Linked DNA regions of Homo sapiens. The protein of the gene in region 5 interacts with the protein of the main gene of each other region in a biochemical or structural test. Each region holds a gene or a part of one and is shown on either strand. Other genes may lie near its edges. The genes, in order: FAM184A, RPS6KB2, CIMIP4, PPP4R3A, LRRK2, SERF1A and DIDO1.

Region 1 (4,437 bases), on a different chromosome or scaffold from region 5:
CGGGTCCAGGCGATTCTCCTGCCTCAGTCTCCCAAGTAGCTGGGATTACAAGTGTCTGCCACCACACTCGGCTAATTTTTGTATTTTTAGTAGAGACGGGGTTTTACCATGTTGGTCAGGCTGGTCTCAAACTCCTGACCTCAGGTGATCCGCCTGCCTCGGCCTCCCAGAAGTGCTGGGATTACAGGCATGAGCCACTGTGCCCAGCCGGGTCTGTATATCTTAAATTGCCTTCATAACTTATGTTCATTACTCTATTTCACAACACTCAGGCAGGACTTCAGCATAAATGCTAGCTAGAATCTAATAACATTGTTTTATTTTCACAAAATTTACATTCATATAATTATAGCTTAGCTTTTATTTAGAATAAAGGATAAAATTTTTCAGTAGTGATAAATGTTCTACTGTAGTGATATCAAGTTTTCCTATTAAATATTTAAGTTAAAATAAGTCAATTAAAAATATTAAGAAAATAATATACGTAGCCAGAAATGACCCAATTCCCAAGGATGTATATGATCATCCCAAGGATGATTAAAGCCTGGGAAATGCCGCCTTGAGAATACCACACAAGTGTAGCCTTTTACTCAAATTTTACAGATTTCCATTAAAAGTAATAGAAGAGAGAAGAGAAAGGGGGAAAAAAGGAGAAAGGAGAAGTAGAACATATAAAATTACTAATTAGGGCCACTGATGGATTCTCACCAGGCATGCATGCCCTGCTTTCTTTGGCTCTGACAATATACAGGTCAATGTCTGTGATTCATGGACAACAGGCCTAAATTACAAATGCCTAAAAAGCTGTATACAAAGTTTCCAAGTTATAGTCTTGTTAAGAAAAAGAAAAGGATAAAAAAATAAAATCAGTGAATTTTAGAACCAAAAATGGTATACTATTGTTTCATAACCAAACAATAGTATATTATGCACACATATATCCTATAACTTTGATTTTATAAAGATGAAAAAACTCCTATATCATCATTTTCTAAACTCTTAAATAAAGGAAATATAGCAATTGAAGCACTTTAACGCTGAACCTTTCTTTTCCCATAAATTACGCACAGACTCTGATTTGTGACAAGACTACTTCCGTACCTCACAAAGCTTACAACCATACCTGAATGGTAAATTAAAAATCAAATGACAACAAAAACAAAAGTTATTTGGGTATTATAGATGAAAGGACTCAAAACTTAAACAAAAAATTAGTAATTCAGGTGTGGCGGAGTGCTTCTTTTCAATTGGGGATTACTGATCTATTTAAAATCTAAGTATAGAAACTCAACATTTCTCTCAAGAAGAAATCATCTTTTGTGAAATAAACCTAAACAATCAGTAATCTCAGAACCATCTTTTTGCATATTAAAAATCGGCCATGACCTCAAGTTGTAGAGAATGTTTTCATTTAGCTTGAACTTTCTTTACTTACAGAGTAAATCATTCAGATAAAAAAAAATCAAACAGCCCATTTTCTCATTTGTTTCTAAAAGAAACCAGAATCAGGACATTTTTATTAGATATAAAGTTTTTACTACTATATCACTGAAAAATAAAATTTCTATAGAACTCTCTGAAAAATCTAAAACTTTAACTTCCAGCACCAAAGCGGATTTGTAATAATCATCATCCATAAGCAATATAGAACTCATCACCACTTCTACAATACTTACAGACTTAGAGGGTATTTCCCATCCTTTACATGTGTTGCCCCACCCTTCTCTCTCCAGGAAGGGAGTTCAACAGGATTTGGGGCAGGAGCAGAAGCAAGAAGCTGCCTCTGCCCCCAAGCTTCCTCAGTGGCAGGCTGTGGCCTGTCAGGCTGCACCATGTCCCTTCAGCCCCCAGCACCACTGCCTTCCAGGAATCCACAGGACTCTTCTGATTTCAAAGTTTTAAAGCCAGGGTGCAGCTGATTAGGAACTTCAATAGAATCCCCTAGTCCTTGGGAACAGTACAGATACTGTTTCCCACAGCTCCATAAGTTGGAACCAACTCTCCCTGCTCACTACCTGTCTAAATCCAAACCATTCAGCAGATCCAAGCAGGCTGCATTTAAGGATATGAAACAGAAACAACCAATTGTCTAAAACTATGTTTTCCAACATTGTAGCCATTAGTCTGCATATGGCTATTTACATTTAAATTAATTAAAATTAAATGAAATTTATAAATTCAGCTCCTCAGTTATGCTAATCACCGTTCAAGCATTCAAGAGCCATTTTTAGCTAGAAGCTACTAACCTGGACAAAGCAGATACAAAACATTTTCATTATCACAATCTATTGGACAGTGTTGGTCAAATATAAATTTGGTGTGTGTTTGTTTTTAACTAAAGGAGTAAACACCTAAAGCTAGGGGGTAATTACCTGGTGGCAGTAAGTTTCTGGTGAAAAAAGAAACATAATTGGTTAGCATGGACCCAAGTGGAAGCATTAAAATGAAAGGAGAGTCTAGAAAAGCAGGTAGTTTACTTAAAAGCAAATACTAATTCTTTGATTATTAAAAATGATCATAAAATCAAAAACTAAGTTATTTGCTACCTACTGAAGATTCATAATGTGCAAAACCATATGCAACAGAATAAAGGAAAAACAAGGACACAACCTTTACTCTTTGTAAATTAACATTCCTAAGGAGACAGGACACACAGACAGACTGACGTTATTCTTTCTGTGACTATGTTTTTTCGGAGCATGAAGTGGGGGATGCCAAGATTTCAGTCTCTGTCTGAGGAGTACCACTGAGGCCAGGAAAAAGGACAGCCAAGGAATTGAGGTCTATTGTAAATCATTTCTGCAAAAGTATGGGGTTATGAGCTGTTATACAAGGCAGATACCTGAGCTCATACTTGGCCCAAAAGGATTTAAAAATCACCTCTAATAACAGCAAACACCAAACTCAGAGTGACCAGGGAAGTAACACAAGTTTCCTCACCATTTCAAAGGCAACTTCAAAAAGTGGTAAATATGATGGAGAAAGAATCATAAAATTCATTCATGAAACATTCACTGAGTGCTTAACTAATGTAACGATTCTGAATATGCCCATCAGAAAGAGCACCTCATCTCACAGCATACTCAAGTAAATAACAACTGGGGACCTGTTTTCTGCTGTGGCTTAAGTGAATACATGTGTGTGCATGTGTGCGTCTGTATGTGTGTGTTGTGGTGTTGCCTATGTATGTAACAATCTTTACCGAAAGATTGAATTGGTCACATAAATCAAATAAAAGAAGATAATTTTTAGATTTGAGGACAATACTTAAAACGGCAACAACACAGGAGGTTATTCTAGACTGTAGAGGACAACACAGGAAACCAAGAAGGTCCACTAGGCTGATAAAAAGACAGAATAAGAAATAAGGGTTGCTGTTGGATGATGTAGAATAAGGCACATTGGAGCTGTTAAGTTTACATTTGACTTTGACATGAAGGATAATGGGATTAGTCACTAATTGTGACTTTACTGAAGTATGTGGATATATATATATTTGATTGGAAGAGGAGAGACTAAAGGTGAATAAACTACTAGCAGCAGCTTAGAGTAGATTAATTCTGAAATAACTTATGTTGGACCAGGGTTTAGGCCACAGAGATGGACTGAGTACAAACTGCATTAGCTACATCAGTTTACAAGCATCTAGGAAAGGAAGGGTTATTAAATGTTTCCAAAGAACATTAAATAAGAATTAGAAACTTTGGTTTTAACAATACTGTAGTTACTATGTATGAGCGGTAACTTTATTTGTAATGTTTTCCCCTTTATTGATTTTTAAAATCATAAGACAATTAGATGCTTCTTGTAGGAATTTAAACAATATGTAAGTGGAGTATATAAAATAAAAAGAAAGAATTGCTCTTTCTCATCTCCAGTACCTCCTAATCCATTCTCTTGAGGGAACCATTACCATTAAAATTTGGTATTTGTTAAGATATTTTGATATTTTGGTAAAATATACATTATTAGTGTGTATATAGGATCATAGTATTCCTATTGTTCACTATATATTCTTTTTACTTAACATTATATATAGCCATATTTTCAGTTTTCACCATGGCATGATAGTTCATGATCCTAAGGAACATTCTTTAGATTACTGTTCTAGCAGAACTGGTGCAGTCTTAGTTGATAAAACATCATCATTCAACTGCCTCATCCTAATTAAAGAACATATAGCACTGCAATTACCATCTGTAACACAGCACTAAAATTTTCTTTTTAAAGTATCCTTTTTATTAGAGTCAAAATAACAGCTAATCTGAGGTTAAACACAGTGCTCCTAAATTTATTATCCACATATGAATTTTCTTATATAATATGACTTACGACACTTGTAAAGCGGCATTTATTTCCTTGAGTAGCTCGTTAGTCTTATTAAAATCTGCCCGCATGATATTTTTCTCTCTGAGGTGGTCTGCTGTCATGACATCC
Region 2 (5,222 bases), on a different chromosome or scaffold from region 5:
GGGACCTGACAGGATGCAGGGCACACGGGAGAGAAGAACAAGACAGGGAGGGGAGTAGGAAGAGACTCAACCATCCTCTGGACTTCTATCCAAATTCGCACCATGCCCATCCACCCCCAACACACGTGAGGGACACAGTAGGTGCTGGACAGACGTTTGCTGAATGAATGAATGATGGGACGGATGCACGGATGGATGGATGGATGGGTAGGACAGAGTGGGGGCCCCCTAGCCAACCCCCACAGACTCATCTCTCAAGAGCTTCCCCCCAGAGCTTCCTTTGCTGGCTCGCTGCCCCCCCGCGACCCCCAGCACCCCTGCCTGGGCCCGCACTCATACCACTGAGGCACTCAAGGATGAGGTAGAGTTTGCCACCAGTCTGGAAGGCATAGGCCAGTTCCACAATAAAGGGGTGCTTCACTGACTCTAGAATGTTCCGCTCAGCCCGTGTGTGTGCTGTGTCCTTGGCATTGCGCACAATTTTGGCCTGGAGATACAGGAATTGGTTAGAAACTGAGGCATCCAGGCTGGGCACAGTGGCTCACACCTGTAATCCCAGCACTCTAGGAGGCCAAGGCAGGCGGATTACCTGAGGTCAGGAATTTGAGACCAGCCTGGCCAACATGGTGAAACCCCATCTCTACTAAAAATAGAAAAATTAGCTGGGTATGATGGTACACGCCTGTAATCCCAGCTCAGGAGGCTGAGGCAGGAGAATCGCTTGAACCCAGGGGCAGAGGTTGCAGTGAGCTGAGATCACGCCACTGCACTCCAGCCTGGGTGACAGAGCGAGACACTATCTCAAAAAAAAAAAAAAAAAAAAAATGGGGGCAACCAGAGCTCCTCAGACCATCCATCTGTTTGTTAACTGCTGCATCCTCTGTCACTGCATTGTATTTCTCCATAATTCTGCTGCTGTCAGCCACCATCATTTTCAGGGATGGGTTTATCCTCTAACACAGGGTTTCTCAACCTCGGCACTACTGACACCTGGGACCAGGTCATTCTTTGTTGTGGGAGGCTGCCCTGCGCATCGTGGGATGTTCAGCAGCATCCCTGGTCTCCACCCACCGGGTGCCAGTAACACTCCCCTCTTGCCTTGACAATCAAAAATGTGTCCATGCCAGGCGCAGTGGATCACACCTGTAATCCCAGCACTTTGGGAGGTTGAGGCAGGCGAATCACCTGAGGTCAGGAGTTCGAGACCAGCCTGACCAACATGGTGAAACCCTGCCTCCACTAAAAAGTACAAAAACTAGGCCAGGCACGGTGGTTCATGGCTGTAATCCCAGCACTTTGGGAGGCCAAGGTGAGCGGATAGCCTGAGGTCAGGAGTTCAAGACCAGCCTGACCAACATGACAAAAACCCATCTCTACTAAAAATACAAAAAAAAAAAATTAGCCAGGAGTGGTGGTTCACGCCTGTAATCCCAGCTACTCAGGAGGCTGAGGCAGGAGAATCACTTCACCCTGGGAGGTGGAGGTTGCCAGTGAGCCGAGATCGCACCACTGCACTCCAGCCTGAGTGACAGAGTGAGACTCCGTCTCAAAATAAGTAGGTAAACAAATAGAAATACAAAGATTAGCCAGGTGTGGTGGCACAAGCCTGTAGTCCCAACTACTCAGGAGGCTGAGGTAAGAGAATTACCTGAACCCGGGAGGCAGAGGTTGCAGTGAGCAGAGAGTGCACTACTGCACTCCAGTCTGGGGAACAAAGCAAGACTCCATCCAAAAAAAAAAAAAAGCTAGGGACGGTGGCTCATGCCTGTAATCCCAGCTCCCAGCACGTTGGAGGCCAAGGCGGGCAGATCACCTGAGATTAGGAGTTAGAGACCAGCCAGGCGAAACCCCACCTCTACAAAAAAGTACAAAAATTAGCTGGGTGTGGTGGCAAGCGCCTGTAATCCCAGCTACTCCGGAGTCTAAGGCACGAGAATCGCTTGAACCTGGGAGACAGAGGTGGCAGTGAGCCAAAATCGCGTCACTGCACTCCAGCCTGGGTGACAGAGCAAGACTCCGTCTTAAAAAAAAATAAAATAAAATAGTGTCCAGACACTGTTGTCAAATGTCTGCTGGGAGTCAAAATTGCCCCCATTGAGAATTACTGCAAGACAATACACATCACAACAGACAATAAACCAGCAAACGCCAAAGTCAGGGATCCTCCTCCACTGTGTTCCCTGCTGTCTTCCCAAAGCCTGGTACAGCATGTTGGGAATGGCAGCCACACAGTATTCGTTGGCTGAACGAGTGACTCACCTTCCTTAGGACTTTCATGGCATATATTTTGCCCAAGTTGGTGCCTTGCACCTTTCGCACCTGGAACACCTGTAGGGCAGGGGAGACAGGATCAACTTCCCTCTCCACATCCTATCTTCAAGAAGCCCCACCCTGAAGCTCTGGCTTTGGGATCAGGAGGCCTAGGCCCTGCCAAGGGTGGGGCAGTGAAGATTTCAAGTCCGATTGGAGAGGATTTGGCCTTCCCTCCTTTATGTTTCTGGCTCTGAATCCCATTAGAGGCCCTGCTGATTCACAAGTCTAATTTGTTTTGAGAACCCTTTGCTGCCTCCAGATGGAGGCTGTGAGGCCAGGAGGAGGGTGCGCCCGCCCCTACCTTGCCATAGCCCCCCTTGCCCAGCACACGCAGCAGCTCAAAGCAGTGGGGCCCGATGCGCTCTGGGCCAACGTTCACGCTGGTCTCAGTCAGCTCCACCTCTTCATAGTGTCCCACAGGCCTACGGACACAAGGAGTTAATGAGGACAAGGCTCCAGTGCTCCCCAGTTCCCCTTCCCCACTCCATTCCCCCCTCCCCCAACACGACCCTCACTCACTCTAGGCCAGCTGCCCTCAACTCGGCAAGGGGACATGCGTCCTGTGAGAAACCGAGGGGTAAGAGCCAAGGAAGGTGCCAGGATACCTCCCCGCTCCCGTTCAGGTTGGACTGCGTGGCCCAGGAGAGAAGGGTGTCAGGGATGGCAGCTAGTAGGGGATGGGTAAGAATTGGGAAGAAACCGAAGGCAGGAAAGGGAGAATCGGGAGAAAAGGCTGGGGTTCTGGAAGAGAGGTCGGGGTGAGGGTGGGATCAGAACTTAATAGAGACCGGGATCTGAGAAGGATCTGGGTCTGCAAAGAGTCGGAGCCCGCTCTGGGCGTGCGGAGCCGCCGCTCCGGCCTCGGCTGGGTGACAGGATCGGCTCCAGGATCCAGTCGCGCCAGGGCAGGGCACTCACCGCGGGGCTGAGCTCTGGCTCGCCCTCGCCCTCGCTGCCTTCCTCCGTCTCCAAATCCAAATCAAACACGGCCGCCATGGCGGCGCCGGCCCCGCGGGCCCGTCGGCCCGTACCTGGCCGCGCACTGACTGACAGTCCCGGACCTAAACATCATCTCTCCGCGACGGCAGCTGCGCGCGCCGGTGACGCAAGGGATCTTACTCCCCCTCCGGAAAATCGCTTAGCCTGGTGGGGAACAAAGATGGCTTCCGTCGCAAGGCCTCTCGGGAATTGTAGTCCTAGAGTGGCGAGGCGCCTAGCCTTCAGCCTGCAGAATCCTTTCCGCAGGACCCTCGGTCTTCCCAGCAAGGCTTTCTGGGAGCCCGTTTTGGTTCTACGGTGTTTTGAGTTTGGATGGAGCAGGGTCGGAAGTGTATGCAGGTGTGAATGTAAATGCAATCCCCAGCCCTGTTGGAGACGGGTACTGCCAGGCCGGCTGCGTGATGAAAGGCAGGTCGCGTTGCTTTCGGTTCACTCCAGAAAGGGAGGCGGCTGCATCAGGGTCTCCTCAAAGTGCCTCTGGCTCGAGGACCCTGCAAATCGGAGCATTTACTGAGTGGCCAGCTCACTGCCAGGCTATGTTGCCAGGTTCCCGCCTTAAATAGGGTTTTGGGGGTCAGTGATAGACCTGTAAATATGGGATTTTGTTGGCGTTTACTCCCTTCTTAATTTAAGCACATTTAGGCACCTGGTACAGAATAGACACTTCAAAAAACGTTGTTGAGGCCGGACACGATGCCTCACGCCTGTAATCGTAGCACTTTGGGAAGCCAAGTTGGGAGGATCACTTGAGGCCAGGAGTTCAAGGTTACAGTGAGCTATGATGGTGCCACTGCACTCCAGGCTGGGTGACACAGTGAGATCCTGTCTCAAAAAAACAAACAGGCCGGAGGCGGTGGCTCACACCTGTAATCTCAACACTTTCGGAGGCCGAGGTGGGTGGATCACTTGAGGTCAGAAGTTGGAGACCAGCCTGGCCAACATGATGAAACTCTGCCTCTACTATAAATACAAAAAATTAGACGGGTGTGGTGGCGCGCACCTGTACTCCCAGATACTCGGGAGGTTGAGGCAGGAGAATCGCTTGAACTCGGGCGATAGAGGTTGCAGTGAGCCAAGATTGCACCACTGCGCTCCAGGCTGGGCGGCAGAGTGAGACCAAGTCTCAAACAGATAAAACCCGAAAACCTGGCTGGTCACGGTGGCTCACACCTGTAATCCCAGCACTTTGGGAGGCCGAGCCAGGCGGATCACCTGAGGTCGGGAGTTCAGGACCAGCCTGACCAACATGGAGAAACCCCGTCTCTACTAAAAACACAAAATTAGCTGGGCATGGTGGTGCATGCTTGTAATCCCAGCTACTCGGGAAGGCTGAGGCAGGCGAATCACTTGAACCTGGGAAGCGGAGGTTGCGGTGAGCCAAGATCATGCCATTGTACTCCAGCCTGGGCAACAAGAGCGAGACTCCATCTTAAAAAAAAAAAAAAAAAAAAAAAAAAAAAAAAAAAAAACTTTATGGTTTTTTTTTCTTTGTTTTGTTTAGTTTTTCAGACAGGATCTTACTCTGTCACCCAGGCTGGAGTACAGTGGCAAGATCGTGGCTCATTGCAGCCTTGACTTCTTGGGTTCCAGTGATTCTCCCACCTCAAATCCCAAGTAACTGGAATGACATAATCACATAATCTTTTTTCTTTTCTTTCTTTCTTTCTTTTTTTTTTTTTTTAGAGGGGAGGTCTTGTTTTGTTGCCCAGGAGGCTGGTCTTGAACTTCTGGACTCAAGTGATCCTCCTGCCTTGGCCTTCCAAAGTGCTGTGATTACAGGCATGAGCCACTACACCCAGCAAAAACCAAAAACGCTGTTGACAGAATGAACTTAGGCCAGGCAGGGTCGCTCATGCCTGCGATCCCAGCAATTTGGGAGGCCAAGGCGGGTGGATCACTTGAGGTCAGGA
Region 3 (4,900 bases), on a different chromosome or scaffold from region 5:
AGCAGGCCCCTGGCTGTGAAGCCCATTGCCCCGGCTCCCATCCTGGCAACCATTTGTCTTCCTGCAAATAGGATTGTATCCATTTGCTGAATGGTCGTTCGTGCTCAGGGAAGGGAAGCAGCTTAGCCACCACGAAGGAGAACCAAGAGCAGGAACCCACACTTTGCTCTGGTGTAAACTCAGTCTTCTCTCTAAGGCCTTGGATTCAAATTAGAGGGGTAGATTCAAAAGCCTCTGCAGCTTTCGTGCTTGTGTTTTGTTTTCTTATGTGATCTTTCTTTTTTTTTTTTGAGACAGGGTCTTACTCTGTCACCCAGGCTGGAGTACAGTAGTGCAATCTCAGCTCACTGCAACCTCCACCTCCCAAGTTCAAGCAATTCTCCCACCTCAGCCTCCTGAGTAGCTGGGATTACAGGTGTGCACCACCACATCTGGCTAATTTTTGTATTTTTAGTAGAGACAGGGTTTCACCATGTTGGCCAGGCTGATCTCTAACTCCTGGCCTCAAGTGATCCACCCGCCTCAGCCTCCCAAAGTGCTGGGATTACAGGTGTGAGCCACCGTGCCCGGCCTGTGACTTCGGTTTTGTTTGCTCTCTTTCCCTGGTTCTCCTTGGTTTGCTCATTCTGATGACAGCAAATGCCGTGTTTTGAGCTGCCCTGTGGAGCAGCCCATGGAGCAAGAAACTGAGGGTGACTTCTGGCCAAAAGCTCATAAAGAATAGAAGCCCTGAGTCCAACAGTCTTTGAAGAACTGAATGAATCCTGACACCTGAATGAGCTTGAAAGTGGATCCTTCCCCAGTTGAGCCTTGATATGAGAACACAGCCTGGATGACACTTTCATTACAGCCTGTGGGATACCCTGGGCCAGAGGACCCAGCCAAGTGAGCATCCTGACTCCTATAAGTTCTGAGATCATAAATTTGTACTGTTTTAAACATACAGTGTCAAACTTCTAAGCTTTATGGTCATTTGTTACGCAGCAATACATAGCTAATACATATTTTGGTACTAACAGTGGGGTGTTGCTATAACAAATACTTAAAAATTTGGGACTGAACTTGGAACCAAGCGGTGGTCAGAGTCTATAAGGATTTTGAGAAGCATGATAGAAAAAGCCTAAATCACCTTAAACAGTTTTTTTTTTTTTTTAAGCAGAAATCTGGAGTTGGAAGATGCAGTGAGTGAGGGCCCAAATGGAAGTGAGGAATATATTACTAGAAATAGTGGAAGAAAGACCCTTGTTATGTAGTGGCAGAAACAGTGACACTGTCATCTGCAGTTATGTGACTAATGAACTGAATGATTTAGCTAAAGAGTTCCAAAGAAAAGATGGTAGTTGCCTCTTACTTTCTTCTTGCTGCTTGTAGTGAAATGTGAGAGGAAGGTGATGAATTGAAGAAGGGACTGTTAAACAAAAAGATGCCAGTACTTAATGGTTCTGAAGTCTCATCCTTTCCAGATCCCAAAAGATGCTAAAATTAAGAAATAGCTTCAGAAGGCTGTCTGGAAAGTGTGCCCAGGAGTGTGACTGTGCGACCTGTTGTTAAAACTTCAGAAAGATCAAAGGATGAGGGTATTACTCTGTCAAACAAAGGGTGCTTTAAAGAGATTAAAGAGATGCCTGATATATCCTCTTAACAGAACCATAGGACCTCTAGGAAGCTTAAGGCTCCTCAACAGGAGCCTCAGTTAAAAAGGGGTGTGACTTTTGTTCAATGGAGTGAACCCCTGTAAGTTTTACTGTTGAGAAAATAACATCAGCAAAATGTTGGCAACTTCGGGTAAAAGGGATAGAGACAGTACAAAATGAAAAGATACCATTGAACAAAAAATAAAAATAAAAAAGACAAGTCAGAGAGTGGATGCAAGAGTCCAGAAGGCAGAGCTGAGAGCCATGGAGAATTATCCCCAGGCCTTGAAACCTAATCAAGGAATGTCCAACATTTGTGTGGCTGGATTTCAAAACCGCTATGGAACATTGACTCCATGTCTCCATTTTCCTCAATTTTGAATAGGAATGTCACTAGTTCTTATCCTATGCCTATCACATCACTGTATGTTAGGTGTGTTCAGGGCAAATTACTTAGTTTCACAGATCTATGATGGGGAAGAATTGAATCTGAGAAGCTGTACTTAAGGAACGACACTGGAGGAGCCTCAGCCACACCTGGAGCTGATTTATATGACCAGATTCTAGCTTTTAAACTGATGCTTTAATAGGATGAGAATTTTAAAGATCTTAGGAGGGGATGACTATATTTTGCATGTGGAAGGGATGTACATTATTGGGGGCCAGAGGGCAGAGAGTGGCAGGCAGTTGACATGGCTCCCAATGATCCCTGTTTCTTGGTATAATTCTCTCCCCTTTGGTGTGGACTGGACATAGTGATGAATGGAATGTGGCAAAAATGAGGGATGTTGCATCCATGATGAACTTATAAGAGACTACAACTTCTGTCTTTTTCACACACTCTCTGCAGCTCTCCTCAGCTCATCTTCTCTGACAGAAGCCAGTTTCCCTGTTGTGAGATGCCCTATGGAGAGGTCCACAGGGCAAGGAACTCAGAGTGGCCTCTTGCCAACAGCTCCAGAGTAGCTGGATCCTGCCATGTGAATGGGTTCCTTCTCTGGTCGAGCTTTGAGATGAGACTAGAGACCCAAGCAACACCTTGATTGCAGCCTGTGAGAGACCCTGGGACAGAAAAATCACCAACACTCCACCGGTATTCCCAACTCACAGAAACTGTGAGATAGTAAATGTTGTCTTAAGCCCACTAAGTTTTGGGGTGATTTGTTGTGCAGCAAGAGATAACTAACACAAGTCCATGTCAAGCATTCTCACATCTGGTAAATTAGTCTGGTCTTCACAAATACCCAGTAAGGTGTTCGGAGACACTACTAATTTATCTTCTTTCACAGATGGAGAAAATGAGGCTCCGAAAAGACACAGGACTTCACCAGGTGGGGCTAAAATTAAATTGCACATCTTCAAGCTAGGTGAAGTTCAAGTTAGCTCCAAGTTTTCTTTCTCCTCCTATCCCCAGCCACCAACCTGACGTGCCCACGGCAGCTCTGTACGTCCCAGTGCACTGCCAGTCCACAGCAGTCTGGACGGGCTACAATGGAAGTGTGGACTCACTTCCAGTTTCTGACCCAGAGAGAGAGATCCCAAGAGACTTTGGTCAAAGAGGGCGGGAAGGTAAGTCCAGTCTAGGCAGTCTTCACTCACAAGCAACTCTGAATGGGGAGAAGGAAGATGAAACCCCATGTCCTGGAAGAACCCTGGCCCTTCATAAGTCTCTGCCTCACCTCTCCAATCTCTTTCATAACAGCAGGAAACACGTGAACCACACTGATGTGTGCTGAAGCCCAGAAGTGCAGATCCCCACTGCAGAACTACTGGTGAAGACCAATGGATGGTTGCTGGGAAGTGGCCCTCCCCAAGATGTTCATTGGAGTTGCCATGGTGATCACTATACACAGGGCTCTGTTACCTCAGAGGGCTGATAGGCCCACCCGTAGGGAAAAGAGGCCAGGAGAAAGCCAGGATTGAGGCCAGGAAAAGGCAGGAGGGGCTTCAATTATTGTTCACTCTCTCATCCACTCTAGAATGTCAGTTGAGCCCCCACTACATGCCAGGTGTGCCAGGCACAGGGGGCTCAGATGCTACCAAGTGCAAAAGATGTTCTTGGGAGCTCAAAGCACTAAGTAGGGAGAAGAACTAGCTCTGTGTAGGAAAAAGGAGGAAGGACTTATGAAAGAGCCATTTGAGTTGGATCTTGAAGGATGCCTAGGAACTTAACAGTTTTGAAGGGATGAGAATATTAAAGGCATGGATGTGTATAACAGCATAAATGTAGGTCGAGGTCAATGGGGAAGGAGAAAGATGCATCTGGAGCTGTCTGATTTGGACACCCAGGGATCAGGGACCTGGGAGTAAAACTAAAGGAAGGGTCCTCTCTCCTATTCCTAAACAACAAGGGCTACAGAAGGAGATCAACAAAATTAAGTGACTTCTTTTCTGCAGAGAAGAAGGAGGCAGAAGTCATTGGTGCCAGCACTGGCCCATTCCTGTCTGGCTGTTGCTCAGCCTGGACAAAGAGTGGGTATAGTGAACGCCTCCTGCAAGCCCAGCCTTTCAGGATTTCCCCAGGAAACAGAGAGTGCTGTGGTTAAACTTGGAGTCCCCAGAATCTGGGCCTGTCACTTATTAGATAAGAGACTGGCCAAGTCCTTTAGCTGAACTTCCTTCACATGTGAAACAGATATCACCCAACACTAAGGATAAGGGTGATGGGCGAATAAAACAATTTTTTGCAAAATGTAGCACATTGCCTTGCACAGAGAGAGACATCACAAAACTCTAAGCTACTTCCGCAAGCAACCCATCAGCAAGTCCTTCGAAGTACACTAGATTTGGATGCCTTCGTCCACCTCCACAACTCCCCCTACTCCCTGGTCCAAGCCACCCTCATCTCTTGCCTAAGTATTATCTATTGCTGCACGACAATCTTGCCATAAACTTCGAAGCTTAACATACAACTGTTATCTCACAGTTTCTTTGGGTCGGGTGTCTACTCATGGCTTAGCTGAGTTCTCTGCATTGGGGTCTTAGCAGGCTACAATCCAAGTATTGGCCAGGGCTGCAGTCTCATCTGAGGTTCCACTAGGGAAGAATATGCTTCCAAGCTCATGTGGCTGTGGGAGGATTCAGTTCCTTGCAGTCTGTTAGACTGAGGGTCTCAGGCTCTCTCTGGCTGTCAGCCAGAGGCCATCCTCAGTTCCTTGCTATGTGGGCCCCCCAACACCAACATGACACTGACTTCATCAAAGCCAGCAAAGAGGGAGTCCCCTTGCAAGATGGGGCATTACAATGTTGTGTACCATAGTCACAGA
Region 4 (3,500 bases), on a different chromosome or scaffold from region 5:
CTTGCTGGTTATTTTTTGCTCTGTTAACTTCTTACTTACATCATCATTCTGTTGTGCCTCCTGCATGACAAACTCTCGTACCATGGATGGATTATATTCAACCAAGTATGAGAATATATCAGTAGCAGCACTTCGCACCTGTGTATCATCCATGCCCTGCAGACAAAAAACATTTATTTTTCCTGTATTTATAAAAATACGGAACCTATAGCTATGTAAATATCCAAACCTAACAAAACATATGAAAAAACTTCAATGTAAAAGAAAGGTCAAAGAAATTCTTCTGCATATAAAACTCTTATTGTACGGATAAAATTATACTTTCTAAATCATTTATTTGTTTGCCTATTTTAACATTTCAGCTAATAAGCTGCAAAGCTGACAAACTATCATTAAATTATGGGAAATTCCTTTACTGCATTCTTTCAATACTGTGTGAAAACTGTCTAATATTGGAATTTTACAGCTTCTTTAACTTAATGAACTACGCAGCTAATTTCAAATATTGGCTATAATAGAATATTTGCATGTAGCATTAAAAATATTAATTTTGGGATTAAAAAATGGTAATTAAAAATGAGGAGACACAAAACTTACAAGGATGACTTCTAAAGCTGGTAATATGCCCATGTTTGACAAAGTCTTGAAAAAAGCATCTCTGTTTTGAGGCTGTAGCGTTTGGGAAAACGCACAAAATTCTTTTAAAAAGTTAACCTGAAATTAGAAAAAAGGATAAGTGATATAAAAAGTTTATTTTATTTATTTATTTATTGAGACGGAGTCTTGCTCTTGTTGCCGACGCTGGAGTGCAATGGCACGATCTTGGCTCACTGCAACCTCCACCTCCCGAGTTCAAGCGATTCTCCTGCCTCAGCCTTCTGAGTAGCTAGGATTACAGGTGCCCGCCACCATGCTTGGCTAATTTTTGTACTTTTTAGTAGAGATGGGGTTTCGCCATGTTCGCCAGGCTGGTCTCAAACTTCTGACCTCGTGATCCACCCACCTCGGCCTCCCAAAGTGCTGGGATTTACAGGCGTGAGCCACCAAGCCCGGCCAGTTGTTTTATTTTTATGCCTTTCATAGTATCTAATTTCTTACCAATTCCTGTCTTTTTTCCTCATCTGTTGCTTCATCTGTTAGTTGTGCAAACAAATCTGTCAGAAATTTTTCATCTTCCTGTGAAACAAAGGACAAATGCAATTATGTTAATGCTAAGATTGTCCTAAAATATAATTTCAGGAATGCTTTAATATACACAGCAATAACTATAAAAAGGAAAGGTGGTATTGGCAATGCTGTCTTTTTTTTTTTTTTTAACAGAAGGAAAAACCACACTATTAAAGTATAAAATTTTGTCAAGGCTCTATTTTCTAAGCCTATATAAAGGCCAGGTAGTAAATATTTTGAGCTTTGCGGCCCATGTGATCTCTACTACGAGTACTCAACCCTGCTCCAGTAATATGAAAGTAGTCACAGACAACTGGAAATGAATGGATATGGCTGTATTTCAATAAAATATTACTTACAAAAATAGCAGGACCAACACTTGCTGACCCCTCACTTTCATAGGTTTTATAACCTTATTAACTTTTAAAAGGTAGTTCTACAACCTCTCAAATGAGAATGAAAATGAAGACAAAGCTACTTTAGTGTTTTAAAGATACAGAGAATGACTCAATTATTTAAAAAGCAAAATTTAGAACTTTTTGTTTTACTTCCTCATTTTATAATTGAGACTTGGATTTTAAAATTTACCCAAGCCCAATTAAGGTGGCAGAGCCTTCATGATTGTCCGGTCAATGTTTCTCATCACTATTTTTTCATCAAGATCTTGGCTTTTGTTTTGTTTTGCTTTTTGAGACAGAGTCTTGCTCTGTCACCCAGGTAGAGCACAGTGGTGCCATCTCGGCTCACTGCAACCTCCGCCTCCCAGGTTAAAGCAATTCTCCTGTCTCAGTCTCCTTAGCAGCTGGGACTACAGGCACACACCACTACACCCAGCTAATTTTTGTACTTGTAGCAGAGATGGGGTTTTGTCATGTTGGCCAGTCTGGTCTTGAACTCGTGGCCTCAAGCAATCCACTGGCCTGGGCCTCCTGAAGTGCTGGGATTACGCACATGAACCACCATGCTCGACCAAGATTTTAATTACTACCTCAGCTAGTGGAAGTAGATTCAATACCACTTAAGCCCTAGACATGCCTCACTCTAAATACACATACACATGGATGTATATACAAGCTCCCACTAGATTACTGGCTCCACATTCACTGTTGTGAGTGCTCCAGAAAAATCTTCTGTGGCACTAAGTTAGTTTGGTTATTCTCACCTTTACTTTTTCTAAAATGAACAAATAGGTCATACCTCATTAATATGATCTTGACCATGTTTGCTACCCAAATGGCATCCAATTTCAAGACACATCTCCAATATACTATATTCTACCAAATGGGTATCAAATGGTTAAAAAAGACATTCTCTGAACTGCTGCAGTTGGGGGTACAGAAATAGAGAAAATAAGAATGTTTATGGTACTACAAAGGAAGCAGTCAATGTTAAGAGGGTGTGATATTTATTTTGTGTGCATGGGGCTATACAAAGTGGGCAGGAACCTGCATTAAACTGTACCTCAATCACTTCTTGCCAAAACATTTGTAAAATGCTACAGCCTTCACAGCAGCACTTTGGATAGAAGTGTCCAGCATCAAGAGAAACAGACATATTGGCAGCCAGTATTTTACAAAGCACATTACAGGGAAGCAAAGATTTAACAACTTGAAATTATTCATACTTAATGAATAAAACTGGCATTTTACATGTATGAAGACCAAGAAAACACAGAAGTGACAAATCCCCACATAACAAAAACAGAACCATATGGAGCTAAAGAAAAGGATCAGGAGAACTCAGTATTTTAGTTCATACTTTTCCTTTTTTTGCCTATCACTGGCTAATATTTTAGAAATACAAAATTTTCTAAACAGGAACAGACATGATTAAACATACTGCTTTATATGTAATGTGTGCTACCAGGCAGCTCTTACTACATTTATTGTCTTCCTTTCTATACTTAACAAATTCAGGTTTCAAATAAATTTTACTTATACACCTGAGGTAAAGTCTTAAAAGATCTTCCAAGTCATATTACACTTATCTGCAGCGGTGCGACCTTGGCTCAATGCAACCTCTGCCTACCAGGTGCAAATGATTCTCCTGTCTCAGCCTCTGGAGTAACTGGGATTACAGGCATGTGCCTCTGCCTCCTGGATTCAAGCGATTCTCCTGCCTCATTCTCCTGAGCAGCTGGGATTACAGGTGTCCACCATCACGCCTGGCTAATTTTTGTAGTTTTAGTAGAGACGAGGTTTTGCCATGTTGGTCAGGCTGGTCTCGAACTCCCGACCTCAAGTGATCCACCCACCTCAGTCTCCCAAAGACCTATTATTCTTACAATACCACAGGCATCAAAGAATAAAAAACAACGTGTGTGTGTGTGTGTG
Region 5 (4,437 bases):
TTAAGAGATAAATGCTATTTACATATGATAACATAAACAACATTTTAAATTATTAAAACATGACACCACCACCATTATGCATCATTAAAATTATACAAAGCAAATTTTGCTAAATACAGATGCCAAAGAGCCACACTTCTTTACTTGAAGCATAAATTATCAAAGATAACAATAGCCCTTCATTTTCAGGAAATTATGAATAAGAGGGATACAATTTTTATAAATACCAAAGCTATCTAATTCAGTAAAAATAGCATACATGTGCCCAGGATAAAGAAAAAAAAAAGTTAGAGTCAAAAGTTTTACATGAAGTCTCAATGTTACAAAGGAACATAAAATTATAGTCATTCACATGTAAAAGATATCGATACAAACCACTGAATTTTTTCCCAGAACCAGTGAATAGTCTAATTCATGACAAAAATGAAGTGTCCAGAAATAAAAGAATCCTAATCGTTTTGGTACTTCAGGAAGTAAGGAACCCTTTATCAAGGAGACCTGTTGGCCCTTCTGAACATAAACTGTGAGCCCTTCTCACAATCCATAGAAAAACTGTCAGATGAATCTAAGACAGGAAACTTTGAAGTATCCTTTTACAGATATAGTGTGTAATCTAAAATGTTCTCAAGAGTATCATAGATCTATATGGTAAAATCAAAACAAAATAAAAATATAAAGTGGCTAGCAAATAAGCTTGAAAATGGTCCTGTTTCTCAGCACCAGCACAGAAAGAATGTGCTTGCTATGGATTTGTCACTCACAGGCTGCATCAGACTAAGCACTATGCTCTCATTCTGGGGTCTTGATCCCCACTCCTTAGCGCCTCGGTCAGTCCATTGCATTTCCCCCCATATTTGTCTATTATTTTGTGACTCTTTTTCTTTAGAGCAGATAATCCTGGGGCCCATAATTTAATTATAAATAGTATATTTGACACTGTGACAGAACTATGTCAAAGCTAGCAGAGACTCCAATATGCTCATTTTCAATAATGTAGTATTTTCATTCGAGAACATTCTTTGTAATACCATGAGAAAACTATGCACATTATGTGCCTATTCTTTTATGTTCTGAAGACAAAATTTTCTTGATCTGAAAAGATGGTGCTGAGAAGCATTACAAATTTTTTTCTGCATTTTAAAAAAATTCTCTATTCAGAGGCAGAAAGGAAGAAAAATCCTTCCTCTGTGACACATGAAGTGCAAAGATAATTCTTTTGGGAATAAAATTAAAAACCACAGAATTTACCTTAAAAAGTGCACGCAGTCTATTAGTCCACAGAGTTTTTCAGTTTTCTTATCCCACACTTCCACAACAGGGCTATTTTGCTTAGCAATATAGAGAGCAGTGTCTACCACCACTGTTATGATGTTGGAATCACTGAAAGCTGCATAAGAAAACCTACAGAGAAAAAAAAATAGAAAGTCATCACTATTTGTTTTCTTCTTAAAATTTCTACGTGTAATACAACCTTATATTAGTTCTTAATGTAAAAACACTATTTTGAAAACTAAACAAGCTAGACTATTGCAATTATTTCATATTCTTCCCTAACCATTCTGAATTGAATATATAACATGCTTTGGTACTTTACTTACTTTTGGTTACTTTATATTAATTTCTTGTGATAATAAAATAAAGATTATGTCCAATGTTTACTTTGGTCTTACTTTTAGTTTCAATTCTATGTGGCTCTTTGTAGAATTTTGTACTATATCTAAATTTCTGAAGGAAATATTATATCTGTAACTTTTGAATGTTCTTGCAAAACTTTGTTTCATGAATGCTCAGAAAATTAAGTGTTAGCCTTTTATACCTAGAGTTATAAAATATAAAATGCTGAAATAAAATTTAGTTGCAGTGTCTTCAAATTTTAAAGCAAGGGATATCTTTGCAGTTAAGCCAGTCAAATTATAGAAAACAAAAATCCACATCATCCAAACATAAACAGAAAGTAAAATATTTGCCATTTTCCCCTTTTAAACATAAAGAAAAATTACGAACACCTTAAAATATTTCCCTTTCAACCTAAGACATCTGGCATTGTACATATTTCACAAACAGATTGGCTACCTTGGGCCACATCAGCATGGCAAACTCCTACTTGGCCTTTGAGGATGAACTTAAATGTCGGCTCCTCTGGATTTCTTCCCTGACCTATCAAAATAGACCAACCAGTCCCTTTTCCCCACTGGTGTCACTGTCATATTATAGACCTTATTAAATATAAAATTGTCTTTATTAGTGCATCCCTCACACTAGATTATGAGTGTAATTTCATAAGGATGAGGACAATGTATTTTCTACATACCCCTCGTCCAGTAAACAGTTGCACAGATAAGCACCTCTGATATAATCAAGCAGTCTGTTAAGTGGGGGAATAGAAGAAGGCACTACAGTATGAATGAACAACGAGGAATATGTAAAAATAGTCAAAATTGCATTTAAATCAGATAGATAACATGAAAATACCATAAAGATTTAACAATCATTAGTATATCCTAGAGTAGGAAGATTTTTTTTCCTCCCCCTTTTCTTTCTATTCTGGAAAAGGAGGTAAAAATATGATGTGTTGTCAGAGAGCCACTACGCTTTAGGTAATTCCTTCTTGGATATTTGCTGTATTTAATAGAAAATAGTTCCAATTAGGACAAAGTTTTGCATGGAATTTCCGTATTTTATAAAATACTTTTGTGTGTTATCTTGCTTGATCCTTAATAAAAAAACATAAAATATGATAAATCTCAATGTTTTTAATAGTAGAAAGAAACATGTACAAATGCTAAATAATTTGCTCAAGGTCCTATGACTAACATCATGCTTGCCGACCTAGGACTAAAAACATGTTGCAGACCTAGAACTCCAAAAGTCCTATGGAGTCTTCCGGCTTCAAAGGCAGTCATCTTTCATTACCCAACATGCCTCTCAGTCGGTGTGTACTGATGATGATGAGGGTACTGATGATGAGGCAACCCCTGATTAGTGATGTGATGTCTGTTTTGTGGGGTAGAGACCAAGGCCACAGGAGATACTTGTTCAGAAGAGAGCAAATATTTATATTTAAGTGTTTATGCATCTAGGTCCCAATCTCTTTTGGGAGATGAGCATCTTTGAGAGCTTGATCTTTATGGATGCTCTCTAGTAAAGCATCTATGCTCCAAATCTTATATGGAACTTTAAAGAGTTAACTGATATCCATAATCCCATAAAATGTGCTATGAAATAAAAAAATAAACTGGAGGCCCTTTCTTTTTAAAGGTTTTCAGGCTTGTATAATTGGGTTAAAAGTGGAAATTACAGGAAGGGGAGCAAAGATGAAAAACTACCTATCAAGCACTATGCCCACTTTCTGGGTTGTGAGTTCAGTTGTATTCCAAACCTCAGCATCACGCACTATACTTTTGTAACAAACCTGCACATGTATTCCTGGAATCTAAAATTAAATTTGAAAAATAAAAATAATAAAAGACATTTTTACATTCATTTTTTAAAATGTGGGTATTACAGAATGAGAATGAGTTGATCCAAATGTTAACCACATACTAGTAAATAAATATGTAAAGACAGAAATAAAAATCCTCATTCATGGGAACTTATAATACACTGCACTCCGCAGTATATCTTAACCTCAAATATACTTTAGAATCACTTGAGAACCTGAAAAAAAAAATCTGATCCCCATCCCAGGCTTAACTGGTCTGATTTAATTGGTCTGAGGTAGGGCCCAGGTATCATATTATTTTCAGCTACCTAGTGGTTTCTAAATGCACAGCCAATGTTGAAAGCCAGTAGATTTAGTGGTATTGAGAAACTACTTTAACAAATACAATTATAGCTACTGTGAAGGAAAACATTAGATGCAATGGAAGCACAAAGTCACCTAACCTGCCACTCAGAGCAAGTGGTGCTTGGACTGAAATAGGCAGGGGGCATAATAGTCATCCAGGTAAGGAGAAGACCACATTCAAAGGTTGGGGGTGAAAGGTAATAACAGGTTGTCTTAGAGATCTGAGTCAATTTCAGTTTGGGTAAAGCACAGATGGCAAAAAGCTTGCAAAATATGAATCTAGACAGGTAAGCAAGCACTGAATTATGAAGGGCCCAGTAGGCTGTCTTAAGGAATTTGGACTTCATATAAAGGACAATGGGATACCACTGAAGGGTTTTAAGCAGGAAAATTGCATCAGATTGATGTACATTTTAGAAAGGTCCCTCTGTCTGCAATGCTGAAAATATGTTGAAGAGAGTATAATCAGAGGGTGAGAACTGGATGCTCTTGTTAATGTGGCCACAGATAATGGATGGCAGTCTGGCCCATGGTACCAGCACTGAGAACAGTGAGAAGTACAAAGATTCAAATGACAATTAGGAGGGTCAAGTGGATAAAGGGAGCAAAAAACAAAGGAGTCAAAGATTACTCCCAAGTGCCAATCTTGG
Region 6 (3,410 bases), on a different chromosome or scaffold from region 5:
TTTAATTTTTTATTTATTTTTTTGAGACAGAGTCTTGCTCTGTTGCCCAGGCTGCAGTGCAGTGGCACAATCTTTGCTCACTGCAACCTCCACCTCCCTGGTTCAAGCGAGTCTCCTGCCTCAGTTTCCCAAGTAGCTGGGATTACAGGCATGTGCAACCAAGCCCACCTAATTTTTGTATTTTTAGTAGAGACAGGGTTTCACCATGTTGGCCAGGCTTGTCTCGAACTCCTGGCCTCAAGTTGATCCGCTCGCCTCGGCCTCCCAAAGTGCTGGATTTACAAGTGTAAGCCACTGAGCCTGGCCTGTTTTAACTTTTTGAGGAAATGCTAAACTGATTTCCACAGCCATGATGGTAAGATATTTCTGTAAAGCCAATAGCAAAAACAAGGGAATAGAAGAAAGGCAAAATAGGCCAGTGGCTCACATCTGTAACCCCAGCACTTTGGGAGGCTGAGATAGGCGGACCACCTGAGGTCGAGAGTTTGAGACCAGACTGAGCAACATGGAGAAACCCTATCTCTACTAAAAATACAAAATTAGCCAGGCATGGTGGTGCATGCCTGTAATCCCAGCTACTTGGGAGGCTGAGGCAGGAGAATCACTTGCACCCGAGAGGTGGAGGTTGCGGTGAGCTGAGATTGCGCCATTGTACTCCGCCTGGGCAACAAGAGCGAAACTCCGTCTCAAAAACATAAAATAAAATAAAATAAAAATAAAGAAGAAAGGCAAAATAACACAGCTACAGGCTGTTCTGCCTATAAAGTAGCCAATATTTATTTCTTTACTTTCCTAATAAACTTGCTTTCACTAAAACAAAAACAAAAACATAGCTATAAAGAAATGAAGTACAGTGGAAAAAGAACCATGACAGTTACTTCTCTATTTGAAACCAAGCTCTGTTGTGCTTGCTGTGTAACTTTAGTAATGTTACTGAAGTTCAGAGCCTCAGTTTCCTATTCTACAGATTAGTGCTAATACCATTTTTCAGAGTTATGATGAATAAAGAATAATGTATATAGAATGTCTAGCATAGAATTTTATAAGGAGTGCATATCTGGTAAACAATGACAATTTCTGAACCAAGCTAGACTAGGTTCTCCAATAAAAATACTATTGCAGGGTCACTGATTCATACCATGTTCATTTTTACTCTAATGTGAGTCAACAGAAATTGAAGACAAAGCTTATCACTTTAATAATAAATGTTAGGGCCGGGCATAGTGGCTCACACCTGTAATTCCAGCACTTTGGGGGACTGAGGTGGGCAAATCACTTGACCCCAGAAGTTCAAGACCTGCCTGGACAACATGATGAAACCCCGTTTCTACAAAAAATATAAAAACTATCTGGGCTTGGTGGTGTGCCCTTGTAGTCCCAGCTACTCAGAAGGCTGAGGTGGGAGGGTCACTTGAGCCTGGGAGGCAGAGCTTGCAGTGAACCGAGACTGTGGCACTGCACTCCAGTCTGGGTCACAGAGTAAGACGCCATATCTGGGAAAAAAAAAAAAAAAGGTGTCAGGACCTTTGCCGTAAATTAAGGTCTTTAATCTCATTTATCAATGACTCTTAATAGTGGCTGCACATTAGAATCACCTGGGAGCTGTTTTAAGTTCAGTTTAAGGTATAACTGGGTGTGCTGGGAGGCTGGGGGAGGGATAGCATCAGGAGAAATACCTAATGTAAATGATGAGTTGATGGGTGCAGCAAACCAACATGGCACATGTATATCTATGTAACAAACCTGCACGTTGTGCATATATACCCTAGAACTTAAAGCGTAATAATAAAAAAAAAATTCAAAAAAAAAAAAAAAAGGTATAACTGGGCCAGCGTGGTGGCTCACGCCTGTAATCCCAGCACTTTGGGAGGCCGAGGCGGGTGGATCACTTGAGGTCAGTAGTTTGAGACCAGCCTGGCCAACACGGTGAAACCCAGTCTCTACTAAAAATACAAAAATTAGCTGGGCATGGTGGCGGGCGCCTGCAATTCCAGCTACTTGGATTGCTGACGCAGGAGAATCGCTTAAGCCCAGGAGGTGGAGGTTGCAGTGAGCCGAGATCACGCCACTGCACTCCAGCATGGGCAACAGAGTAAGACTCTGCCTTTAAAAAAAAAAAAAGGCATAACCTAAGTACAGTAAAATTTACCTAGGGTGCTTTTTAATGCTCGACCTCTGACCAATTAAATCAGAACTGGATGAAAGTTAAATGTTTGAGCATAGAGATATCCCAATTACCCCGATTTGATCATTACACATTGTACACATAAAGGTTTTTTTTTTTTGACGGAGCCTCGCTCTGTCGCCCAGGCTGGAGTGCGGTGGCGCGATCTCAGCTCACTGCAAGCTCCGCCTCCCGGGTTCACGCCAGTCTCCTGCCTCAGCCTCCCGAGTAGCTGGGACTACAGGCGCCCGCCACTGCGCCCGACTAATTTTTTGTATTTTTAGTACGGACAGGGATTCACCGTGGTCTCGATCTCCTGACCTCGTGATCTTCCTGCCTTGGCCTCCCAAAGTGCTGGGATTACAGGCATGAGCCATCGCGCCCGGCCGGAGTTTCACTCTTGTTGTCCAGGCTGGAGTGCAATGGCGAGATCTCAGCTCACCGCAACCTCCGCCTCCCAGGTTCAAGTGATTCTCCTGTCTCAGCCTGCCGAGTAGCTAGGATTACAGGTGTTCGCCACCACAGTTGGCTTTTTTTTTTTTTGAGACGGAGTCTCGCTCTGTCACCCAGGCTGGAGGGCAGTGGCACGATCTCGGCTCGCTGCAAGCTCCGCCTCCCGGGTTCACGCCATTCTCCTGCCTCAGCCTCCCAAATAGCTGGGACTACAGGCGCCTGCCACCTCGCCCGGCTAAGTTTTGTATTATTAGTAGAGACGGGGTTTCACCGTGTTAACCAGGATGGTCTCGATCTCCTGACCTCGTGATCCGCCCGCCTGGGCCTCCCAAAGTGCTGGGGTTACAGGCGTGAACCACCGCGCCCGGCCACACACTTGGCTAATTTTGTATTTTTAGTAGAGATGGGGTTTCTCCATGTTGGTCAGAATGGTCTTGAGCTCCCAACCTCAGGTAATCCACCCGCTTCGGCCTCCCAAAGTGCTGGGCTAACAGGTATGAGCCACCACGCCAAGCCAGTTTCTTTTTGTTGTTGTTTTTTTGAGACAGGGTCTCACTCTGTCACCCAGGCTGGAATGCAATGGCAGGATCTCGGCTCACTGCAACCTCCGCCTCCCAGGTTCAAGTGATTCTCCTGCCTTAGCCTCCCAAGTGGCTGGGACTACCCAGCCCACATACAGGTATTAAAAGATCACATGTACCCCCAAAATATGTACAACTATTGTAATTCAATTTTTTAAAAAAACAAAAAATCAAAACTGAGCATAACGCAAGGCTTGAGTAGCTGTCAAGGT
Region 7 (4,437 bases), on a different chromosome or scaffold from region 5:
TACAAAACTGATTTCATAATGTCTTCAACAGAGAAAATTTACTATAACATTTCAGTCAGCTTGTAAAATAAAAACATATGTATATCAAGGCACAAGCAAAAAAACCTGTTCTAACACAACTTTTTGTGTGTATAATTAGTGTGTAATTCTACACACTACACAGCCCATCACAGGGGGAATGTGTTCATAAAACTGCAACCATATTGTATCAGTAACAACTTTTCCCCAGAAAGAAAAATGTGGGTATCCTTGAAGCTGGGAAGTGAACAAACTACAGGTTAAAACAGAATGTACCAAATTTAATATTTCCACATTTCTAAGCACATTTTTTTCCCCAGCTGAAAACTGCTTCATTTTCTATTGACTAGAAGCAGCTGATGAGCGGCGATTCAAGCAGAGGACACACACTGACTTCCAAATGCTTGAATGGCGGCTCTCAAACCTTTTGTCTCAAGACACTTTTACAAGTTGAGAACACCAAAGAGCTTTTGTTTATGTGGAATGTATTGCTATTTTCAAAATTCTAAGTATGTATTAAAAATAAACCTATTAATACATTAATAGTATCTTTAAATGAAAGTTATTTCTAAAACAAACAAAAATGAACAGGAAGAGTGGCCCTGTTGTACATTTTTGCAAATTTCTGGCATAACCGAAGACAGCTCCATGTTCATGTCTACTTCTGCCCTCAATCTGTTCCCATAGAGTGTTTCAGCTAAAACATGTCATCAAAATCTTGCCTCACACAGATAGGTCTTTAGAATGGAGTATTGTAACCATCTTCACATAACTGGATGTTCACTGATACTACACCAACTCTCGCCAAGGAGCAGTTTCATAAAAGTTAGCTGAAACAGAATTTGCAGCCTTTGTCAAGGAACTTCTCCCTTTCTTTCATGAAAACTGACTGCTGTGTTCACTCTGAACACGTCCTTGCACTCTGGACCCATGTGCATGCTGTTCACCTGGATGACACGGGTTCAAGTAACAGACAGATTCTCAATGTCCACACATCTCATCGGATAGCATAAAACAAACATTTTTTTTCCTGTTGCCCAGGATGGAGTGCAGTGGTGCAATCAAGGATCACTGCAGCCTCAGCACCTCCCCCACCCACACCACCGCCAGGCTCAAAGCGGTCTTCCCACCTCACCCTCCCCAGTAGCTGGGACTACAGGTGCATGCCACCATGCCCAGGTAATTTTTGCATTTTTTTTTGTAGAGACAGGGTCTTACTATGTTGCCCAAGCTGGTCTCAAACTCCTGGGATCAAGTGATCTACCCACCTCCGCCTTCCAAAGTGCTGGGATTACAAGTGTGAGTCACCTCACCTGGCCGATAATGTCGGGTCCAATCTCCAAGAAGACTTTAATTACTAGAAAGCCATCAGGTTTACAATGGCAGATACAAGTTTTCTAAAATTCCAATTTTCACCCCAAAGCTCAAATTTTATCCTTAGCAACAAATACTGTTCGTTTTTTCTTTGAGACATCACTCGTTTTGGACAAAACGCCTGCCACATGCTGAGTCTGAAAACTGTCCTCCGTCTGTTGTTCTGTCAGGGACAGACAGCGTTTCCGAGACCACTCGGCTCCCAGCTCAATCCCCTAGGGCTGTGCGTGGACAGTACCACGTGGGGATGCAGCAGAAGCTTTATATATAACTTGACATTTAATCACAGCGAAAGTAAAAAAGATGTATGTTTGCGGGTTCCGAAAAAAATTAATATTTACTGCATCATCAGGGACATTATTTGGGAAAATTGGCATATTCTAAACATTCGGTGCCCATGCACGGTGCTGAAGAGGGCTCCAATCTGCCCTGTGCCACCGATGCAAATGTCAAACTCACCAGAAAAGGCCTGTACTATTAGACTATTATTATGCAGAAGTCATCTTTACCTCTTAGCCCCAGAAAGGGCTTCAAGGACTTCCCCCTCAGGAGTCCATGAAACACAAAGAACTGTGGCAACATGCCATTTCTACCAGTTTAGGAGTACACTGGATATGTGCAAAGCAGTAATACATACCTATGCTTCAGACATCAGAAGAGACTTTAAACATTTCCTTCCACAAGGGTTCTGTAACTACCTGTTAATCTTCCCTCAGATTCCCCAACTCACCAAAACAGTAAGCAGCCAAAAGTGAAATTTCTTAAAAACCAAATAAAAATATCTTCCCAAAAGGTCAGCTCTGTTACTTTAAAAAGCCTAACTGCAACTATTACAATGCATGGGTTTGCAACCACTGCAAATCTGTATGCTCAACTTTTACTACTCTAAAATCTGCTTGAAGTCATTAACTCAAGCGTGCCCACTTCCAGGTTGTGGTACAGCTGCATGATCAGGGCTCACTGCAGCCTCTACCTCATAGGTTCAAACGATCCTTCTGCCTCAACCTGAGTAGCTGGGACACCACTGGCGTGAGCCACAGTGCCCAGCTCCCACCTAAAGATTTTCAGTTCCAAAAACTTGAGACTAGTTTCTGAGTAATTAATCTCCAAGACACTTTAAAATATGACATACAACCATAATTAAGTTTCTATTTTCATAACATCGCACCTCCAGGAAAAGAGCTCTGACTTCTAAGCAAAAAGATAAAACAAAAATGCATAGTTTACCTCACCTAGTGGCAAACATTCTGTTTCTTCAAACCTCACATTCCCCTGAAACAATATTCAAAACAATTTTAACCCGCCAGTCAGAAATTATAATGCTACAATAAAACCTCACTATTCTAAACTTCATTATTTTCGCTAATTCTGACAGGGTAGGCCAAAGTTTACATTTATTTATATTTTGCCTATTAAGGGTCTCCTGGCTCATCAATCTGTTTATTATGCAGATGAGGAGCAACTGAGAAGACACTAGGTAAAAGATCTTTAAACTACCACAAATGAAGGAAAGATTACCCAATGAAAGACTCTTGATAGCTCAGTTTTCATTAATGCGACAGTCACTAGGAGAATATGCCTAGAAACTTCAGATGACATCCCCAAATGCGACGTGTTCTCCAGCCACCAGCAGCAGCCGTTCATGTACCATGATGGCCCACTCAAAGCTCCACCAGCTTGCGGCAGGAAACACTGTGCTGCACTCACCAAACAGGAAAGAGATTTGGGCCCACAAGGAACTGAAGAAGCCCAACTTTCATTTACTTTAGTATCTATGCAGAATCTGACTCAATTGCATAGATTACATTTAAATCCTTCAGACGGCAAATTCAAAGTTTTGCTGCTTACCAAATAATACCGTCATTACAAAAATTATTCTGGGCCGGGTGCGGTGGCTCATGCCTGCACTTCGGGAGGCTGAGGCAGGTGGATCACCTGAGGTCAGGAGTTTGAGACCAGCCTGGCCAACATGGTGAAATCCCCATCTCTACTAAAAACACAAAAATTAGCAGGGCTTGGTGGCAGGTGCCTGTAGTCCCAGCTACTTGGGAGGCTGAGGCAGGAGAATCACTTAAACCCGGGAAGCGGAGGTTGCAGTGAGCTGAGATCGTGCCACTGTACTCCAGCCTGGGCAACAAGAGCAAAACTCCCTCTCAAAGAAGAAAAAAAAAAAGCAGCAAGGGTGCCACAACACAGTATGTTTCTCACAAAGAAAATGTAGAGAAAAATCCAGAAACAACCTATTGTTGTTTTACATTTCTTGGGTATTTGTGTTTTTATAGATACGCGGAGACAAAAAGCAAAACTTGTTACTGAAAAACCTGCTGAGGACTAATGCTTTGGCCAGCCCCCGGCTACAGCCGGGCCGCCAAGCTCCCCATGTGAGCTTGCAACAATCCTGCCATTTCCCTCTATCTACTTCCTAGTGCAAAACACAGGCTGGTGACCTTGGTGGGCAACTCAGGTGGGAAATTTCAACTCTCCAAATGAATGCCAGGAACCAGAAACAGTCACATAAAATCATTTATCGAGGTGAAGGAGAAGTGAGGTTTATTGTTCTCTATTTAATGGCTGGACATAAAGTCTCCTAAACCACTACCTTTGATGGACTCCTCTTGTCTCAGTAAAAAAGAAAGTATGGTTTCAAACACTTAAGATACGGTCCCAATTCTACATACCAGGATTCCTGTTGCTCTTAATAAAAGATTACCACTTGGGCCCTGGTGAGGACCACAATGCACAGGTTCTTATCCCCATGAAGAAATCCACCTCATGCCGCAAGTGTGGCAGTGTGAGCTCCCCGGGTACCATGTGAGTGGGGTGCGCTGCGGGAGGTCATCCCAGCAGGGTACTGTGGGGGCTGCTTCCCCTCAAGGGCATCTGTTTATTACAGGTTTAAATCACTGTTCCTTTATGTTCTCCTCGGTCCACACCCTTAGAGACCTGCATAATTCCATGGCCCCAAGCACAGCCTACTCTTGCCTCCCCCCAACCCCCGATTTTCACTGCTGCAAAGGATTCAGCAAGGGGCTGTGTAGGGCACTT

What was found.
Region 1: the proteins of LRRK2 (region 5) and FAM184A form a complex in vitro, tested with the Homo sapiens proteins (one large-scale study listed by BioGRID and IntAct).
Region 2: the proteins of LRRK2 (region 5) and RPS6KB2 form a complex in vitro, tested with the Homo sapiens proteins (one large-scale study listed by BioGRID and IntAct).
Region 3: the proteins of LRRK2 (region 5) and CIMIP4 interact on a protein array, tested with the Homo sapiens proteins (one large-scale study listed by IntAct).
Region 4: the proteins of LRRK2 (region 5) and PPP4R3A interact on a protein array, tested with the Homo sapiens proteins (one large-scale study listed by IntAct).
Region 6: the proteins of LRRK2 (region 5) and SERF1A form a complex in vitro, tested with the Homo sapiens proteins (one large-scale study listed by BioGRID).
Region 7: the proteins of LRRK2 (region 5) and DIDO1 form a complex in vitro, tested with the Homo sapiens proteins (one large-scale study listed by BioGRID and IntAct).

The regions. Positions count from the first base shown.
Region 1 is NC_000006.12:118,970,096-118,974,532, forward strand, and holds part of FAM184A (protein FAM184A), read right to left. Parts: coding exon 4,333-4,437; intron 1-4,332.
Region 2 is NC_000011.10:67,426,633-67,431,854, reverse strand, and holds the start of RPS6KB2 (ribosomal protein S6 kinase beta-2), read right to left. Parts: upstream 3,362-5,222; 5' UTR 3,310-3,361; coding exon 3,232-3,309; intron 2,874-3,231; coding exon 2,833-2,873; intron 2,736-2,832; coding exon 2,615-2,735; intron 2,329-2,614; coding exon 2,260-2,328; intron 488-2,259; coding exon 340-487; intron 1-339. UniProt on the Homo sapiens protein: Phosphorylates specifically ribosomal protein S6. Seems to act downstream of mTOR signaling in response to growth factors and nutrients to promote cell proliferation, cell growth and cell cycle progression in an alternative pathway regulated by MEAK7.
Region 3 is NC_000022.11:37,004,416-37,009,315, forward strand, and holds the start of CIMIP4 (ciliary microtubule inner protein 4), read right to left. Parts: upstream 3,437-4,900; 5' UTR 3,314-3,436; intron 3,242-3,313; exon of another isoform or gene 3,057-3,241; intron 1-3,056.
Region 4 is NC_000014.9:91,475,811-91,479,310, forward strand, and holds part of PPP4R3A (serine/threonine-protein phosphatase 4 regulatory subunit 3A), read right to left. Parts: intron 1,177-3,500; coding exon 1,099-1,176; intron 715-1,098; coding exon 598-714; intron 157-597; coding exon 1-156. UniProt on the Homo sapiens protein: Regulatory subunit of serine/threonine-protein phosphatase 4. May regulate the activity of PPP4C at centrosomal microtubule organizing centers.
Region 5 is NC_000012.12:40,360,366-40,364,802, reverse strand, and holds part of LRRK2 (leucine-rich repeat serine/threonine-protein kinase 2), read right to left. Parts: exon of another isoform or gene 1,619-4,437; intron 1,402-1,618; coding exon 1,249-1,401; intron 1-1,248. UniProt on the Homo sapiens protein: Serine/threonine-protein kinase which phosphorylates a broad range of proteins involved in multiple processes such as neuronal plasticity, innate immunity, autophagy, and vesicle trafficking.
Region 6 is NC_000005.10:70,903,268-70,906,677, reverse strand, and holds part of SERF1A (small EDRK-rich factor 1), read right to left. Parts: intron 1-3,410. UniProt on the Homo sapiens protein: Positive regulator of amyloid protein aggregation and proteotoxicity. Induces conformational changes in amyloid proteins, such as APP, HTT, and SNCA, driving them into compact formations preceding the formation of aggregates.
Region 7 is NC_000020.11:62,915,994-62,920,430, forward strand, and holds part of DIDO1 (death-inducer obliterator 1), read right to left. Parts: intron 1-4,437. UniProt on the Homo sapiens protein: Putative transcription factor, weakly pro-apoptotic when overexpressed. Tumor suppressor. Required for early embryonic stem cell development.